2 separate regions of the Homo sapiens genome follow, and region 1 is linked to region 2. Evidence: fine-mapped expression QTL. A gene starts in region 2. The other region holds a variant in brackets. All regions are shown on one strand. Distances are from middle to middle. Region 1 overlaps SMIM35 (small integral membrane protein 35). Region 2 holds the start of SCN4B (sodium voltage-gated channel beta subunit 4).

What was found. PIP is the estimated chance that this variant, and not a neighbour inherited with it, causes the effect.
Region 1: its variant is fine-mapped to the expression of SCN4B in whole blood (TOPMed, PIP above 0.99).

The regions. Positions count from the first base shown.
Region 1 is chr11:118,030,240-118,033,151 of GRCh38, forward strand. All of the region lies in intron 1 of SMIM35 (small integral membrane protein 35), which reads right to left. Among named protein-coding and RNA genes, the nearest start is that of IL10RA, 45 kb to the left of the region's middle. The variant T/A (reference allele first, on the strand shown) is at 1,215.
Region 2 is chr11:118,151,125-118,154,036 of GRCh38, forward strand. It overlaps SCN4B (sodium voltage-gated channel beta subunit 4), which reads right to left and starts at 1,699. Exons shown (of 5, transcript NM_174934.4): 1 at 1,489-1,699. The coding sequence starts at 1,549. RefSeq lists an enhancer at 2,317-2,817.

The DNA of each region.
Region 1 (2,912 bases), 120 kb before region 2:
GGCCAGGCTGGTTTTGAACCCCTGACCTCAAGTGATCCACCCGCCTCAGCCACCTAAAGTGTTGGGATTACAGGTGTGAGCCATCGCACCCAACTTGCAACATAATTTATGTTGGGCTCAGGCTTCTTCACAGAAACGTAATGCTGGGAGACAATAGAGCACAATCTACAAGGTTCTAAGAGAAAGAAAGTGAAAACCAAAAATATTTTAACAACCCAAGATGTTCAAATATAAAGATAAAAGACAGACATTTTCAAATATAAAAGAACTTAAAGAATAGAATATCTGCATGTTCTTTCTTGGGCCCAGCCGCCATTGGTGGTGGAGTGGCACTATGGTGGTCCTGAGCAGCGTGAAGCGGGGTCCATGGAGAAGGGCTGCTTAGCACGAGATGCCTGATCCCAAGCTGGGGGAGGAGGGTATCCATAAAGATGGGAAGCCTGGTGTGGGGAGTCAGGGCTGAGCAGGAAGAGGAAGGCATAGGGAATGAGGTAGTCTAACCTGGAGCATCAGAGCCAAAGCAGGATGAGGAGGGTTCTAGGTGGAGGATAGCCTGGTATGTGGAGTCAAAGCCTGAATGGGATTAGGAGGGCATCCATGGCAGTGTTAGGGGTTATGGCCCACCAAGTGGAGTCAGAGCCCAACAGGGCAAAAAGAAAGGCCATGATGGTGCAGCCCAGCATGAAGTATCAGAGCCCAAGTAGAAGAAGACAGACATTAGTGCTAGAGAGGACATGGCAGCAGAGATTGGATATTGATTGATACTGATCAATCAATATCAATATCGATGTTGATTACATACAAAGGATTAATTAAGTAGTATGTTAAGACTAATGGACGCCAGACTTCACACTGTTGGAAAAAAGAGTTACAAATACAAAAAGAGAGACACCTAGAATAAATTTCGTGGTGTTAGATTGGAATTGAAGTTATTGGTGTGAACTACAGTTTAATACACATATAAATAGATATAGAAACGGACATAGACCTGTATGGATGTATGTAGCTTTGTCCACTAGGAGGGCTTGAGGCAGCAATGTCCCAATATCAACAGACACATCTACCACTAAGATCTTGGCTTCTGAATGCCATTTTCCACTCAAAGGAACCAGGGTCCCTTGGAGAAATGGCTGATTTCAGTACCAGCAGGGAAAGTAAAAGATGAATTTGAATCATCTTTCTGTGCCACAGCAACAATAAGGAAGGTCCTAAAA[T/A]ACAATAGGAGCATGTCAAATGACATATAAGCTAGCTTCTATTGGACAAAGCAATGGCTGTTAAGTTTTCAAGGGAAGGCGAGAGTATCAAAATTTGATTTGATATTTGAGTATCAAAATAAGTGATGGCGGGAACAACCCACTGAATAAAATAGAAACCATGAGTCCAAAAGACATTAATTAATTAATTAATTAAAAGTTTACTGCACAATGGCATACTTAGTTTCAAATTCCTCTCCACAAAGTACTTATTAATTACAAAGAGAAAAAAATAATAACTTTACAGATGGGAAGCTTGGCAAACACCACCTTAATCAAGTGACCAGAGTGAGCTTCATCAGTAATGAGACAAACAGAAATGGCATACCACCTGAGGGGAGGCGAGGAGAAGAAACCAGCATCGGCCAGGCATGGTGGCCCATGCCAGTAATCCTAGTGCTTTGGGAGGCTGAGACAGGAGGATCTCTTGAGGCCAGGAGTCCGAGACCAGCCTGGGCAAATGGCGACACCCCGTCTCTAACAAAAAAATACAAAAAAAAAAATTAGCTGGGTGTGGTGGTGCGTGCCTGTGGTCCCAGCTACGTGGGAGGATGGTTTGAGCCCAGGAGACAGAGATTACAGTGAGCCAAGATCACACCACTGTACTCCAGCCTGAGTATAAAGATCATTCAAGAGAAGATTGAGAAAATGCTCCAGACTGAAGCAGAATAAAAAGACATGACAACTAAATGCAACTTGTGATTCTGAATTGTATCCTTTTGCTGTAAAAGCCACTATCGGGGCAACTGACAAAACTTGAGTAATGTGAGAATTAGATGGGAGTAGTGTATTGTTATTAATTTTCTGATTTTGATCACTGTGTCATGGTTATGTAGGGAAATGTCTGTAGGAAATACATTCTAGAGTAATACGAATAATTATATATGAAAAAGCAAAGTTTAAGTGGATATAGTAAAATTCTTTTAAAAGACTATATATTTCATGATATGCATTTTAATGTATATATACACCTTATTCTTCTGGACAGATGCAGAAGAAAAGTAATGTGATGATCTGGGAGAGGAACTGGGTGGTGGTAGGAAAGAGCTTTTGTTTTTCATTTTATATCTTCCTGCATAGTTTATTTTTTTTTGCCAGGTACATGTATTACTCTAATAAAAACAAATACAGGAGGCTGGGCATTGTGGCTCACACCTGTAATCCCAGCCTTTGAGAGGCCGAGATGTGGGGATCACTTGCGGTCAGGAGTTTGAGACCAGCCTGGTCAACATGGTGAAACCCCGTCTCTACCAAAAAATACAAAAATTATCCAGGCGTGGTGGCAGGCGCCTATAGTCCCACCTACTCAGGAGGCTGAGGCACGAGAATCACTTGAACTCAGGAGGTGGAGGTTGCAGTGAGCCGATACCATGCCACTGCACTTCAGCCTGGGCAACAGAATGAGACTCTGTCTCAAAACAAAAAACAACAACAAAAAAAGGAGTTTTCTGGAGAGTGAGATTATGTGTCATTTCTGTTTTTCTTATTTTTTTACATTCAAAAAACTAATACATAATAATGTTAGACATTTGCATGCACACGCATGGAAATTTTTATTTTTCTCTCTACAGTTAAGGCAAAAAGTGAATAAGGATCAGCTCTCATCAATTAAGTCAGGCTTTGAACAATTTTGGTAGCAGAAAGTCTTTACCTGGTGTT
Region 2 (2,912 bases):
CACACACACACACACACACACACACACATCATTTTCAGGGCCCTCTTGGTTGCCCACAGAGGCCTGGTTCTATGAGTATTCTAACAAACAAGGGACTGGCATCCCACCACCCAGGAAGGTAAGCCAGAGGTGTGAAGTGGGGTAGTTTAATGACTGGCTGAGTTTGAATTCCTCAGTGATCCTTTACCCCTGCCATTGCCACCATGGGGACCTGGGCTGATCTGAGATGGGATGAGGGGAAGTAGCATGGAATGGCGCTGTGCCCACCCTGTGAAAAGGAGCCTCAGGCGTCACTAAGGCCCACTTCATTAAGGTCACTGTGAAACCAGCATGACATCTGTGCCAAGGTACAGGAGAAAACAAGGGTGTCTTCCATCTAGCGGTACAGAGGTAAATAAACATCCCAAGTACAAGAAATACTCTCTCCCCTCTTCACCACCAGGCACCAACCTGCTAGATCTGCACACAGTTTACATTCGCAGAAACAGTAGCCACTTCCCTTATAGGGTTCTGTCTCCCTGTTTTCAGCAGAAATACCTACACCGTGTGTCTTACCCAATGCAGGGAGCTGCCAAAAGCCAAATCTGACCAATATAAACAGGAAGAGATGCCGTTGCCAGAGATGGAGTCGGCTTACATTAAAGTCTGGCTATGATTTATGAGGAGATTACATCCTGGATGAATAAATATCATTCCCTAATCTCTTGGAGTTTGACACTCAAAACTCTCATGTGCATATTAATAGATATTAATAATGCTTCTTCCTCCGTGTCCTCTGGACATGTCTTCTCTGTCTCCATATTCACTTCAAAAATGAAGAGCCAGGAGCAGGTCAAACAGGTCTTCCCTACGGAATCTCTTTGTAGGAAGAGAGACAAGGCCGTTCCTAAAGGGCCTTGAATGATCCCGCAAGCCCCTCCAGCCCCTTCCAGCTTTCAGGTGCTGCTGTAGGGAAGGCAGTGGCTCCTGAGGGAGGTACAGGGCAGAGGAGCAAAGCAGGAAAAGGGCCCAGGAAGAAGGGGACTCCCCCACCCCCAACTGGTGCATGCCTGGTGCCTGGGAAACAAGCAAACGGCTCTGGGCCGGGATGGAAACCACCATTCCAACAGTCACACGTGCAACCCACCTGGTATCCCCTGCACTCAAGGCACGGACCCCCCTCCTCCAGCATCCTGAACCTCTGAACTCTGGAGACCCGCGCTGCAGCCCCAAGATCCAGCTCCAAATACCTGGAGCCGAAGGTGCCAAGGACAGCAAAAAAACTAATCCTGAGACTGGCGGGCTGATGGGGTAGAGAGGGACGCACACGGTCCCCAGGGAGCACAGCCTATGAACCAGGCAGGAACCAGGCAGGAAGCCGGCGGCCACCATCCTCATTCCGTGCCGCACTCCAAAGCCCACCCCATCCAAGGCATCTTCCTTCTCGAGTGTCCCCTTCTTTGGGGGTGGGGGGAGGCAAGAGAAGAGACCAAGCTGGGGCTGCCTTACCCAAAAGCCCAGTGCCCAGCCATCTCGCCGGGGCTTTGCCTCCGTCCCCAGCCCCGGGCATAGTCCTGTTCTCTCCGGAGCGCGCGGGGGTCGCGGGGATGGGATACTGGGCACAGCCGCGCTCTCCGCCCGAGGTCGGCGTTCGGCCACAAAGCTACCCCGGAGCTCTGCGCCGCCGGTCGGGGCTCGGGAAAGTTAGCGGGCAGAGAGCGAGAGGAGGGGGAGGGAGGGAGCGGAGGGGGAGGCGCGCTCGCCCGCTGCTGGGAGCCGGCTGCTGGAGCAACGGCGGGAGGGAAGGAGTAGGAGGAGCCGGAGCAGGAGCGGGAGGAAGACGGAGCGAGCGCAGCGGCGAGCGAGGCTGCGCCTCTGCTCTGGAAGCGCTCCAGCCGCAGGAGGGGCGGTGGCCGCCGCGTAGGCCGGGGAGCCCCCGCCCGCTGCGCACCCTGCCTGCCGCACCCCGCCTCGCGGTCCCGGAGCCCCGGGACCACGCCGTGCCCCCAACTCCCTCTCCAGTGGGGCTGGGCTGCTGCGGCTGGCACTGCAGGGCCGGCCTGCAGCCACCCGCATCATCCCATGCGCTGAGCTGCCAATTAGGAGCATAGTTCGGGGGGAGTAGAGGTGGAGCTTTTCGGTTGCTGGAAGACTGTTTTGCTTTGCTTGGGGGAACACGGGAAGGTTAGCGGCTCCCTCTCCCAGGACCGCCAAGGGACCGCTTTAAAGTCCGCAGCGGACGCTGCCGCAACGGGTGGGCGTGTGCGGGCTTGCCCACTGCAGCTTGCGCCTCCTCGGTGGCGTGCGACATGGCGCGCGTGCAGCCTCGGGACCCGCTCCCGCCACCTTCTGCCCCATCGCTCAGCAACTCCGGCGGTTGTTTTAGGAAGCCCGGAACAGAGCTTTCCCATTGCAAACTGCCCCGGCCCTCCCTTCCCCCACCCCCACGCCACCCCGCCCCACATTTCTCCATGGACCCCTTGGAAATCACCACGCTCCAGGTTAGGGAGCAGGTTGGTCCGCGCCTGGTCTGTGTCCTGCGCCCCATTTCACCCTCCCGCTGCACCCCTGCTTCTCATTTTTCCTACCTAGGCCGTCCCCCTCAGATGCTGCCTTTTCGCCCTCCTCCAACTCTCCTGTTTTCTTCGGAACGGCAGACTCCCTCGGCCTCCCTTTTGGGGTAGGGGTGGAGGAGTCCAGGGTGACAACCAGGTCAGAGGGCTGAGGCGAGGCTGTGAACGAGTAAGCCTTTTCCCAGACAGGCCCAAGTGAAAGAGTTTCACCTGAGCGGTGCTACTTGGGCTGGTGGTTCTGTAAATGAGTCGATCTCCTCCTCAGCACCTTTCCAACCATCCAAGACCCTCCCTGCATCACAGGCCCTCTTTACTGTCTAGGACTGGTCCGGACTGGGAAGCCCGCTCCCACTTCATGGT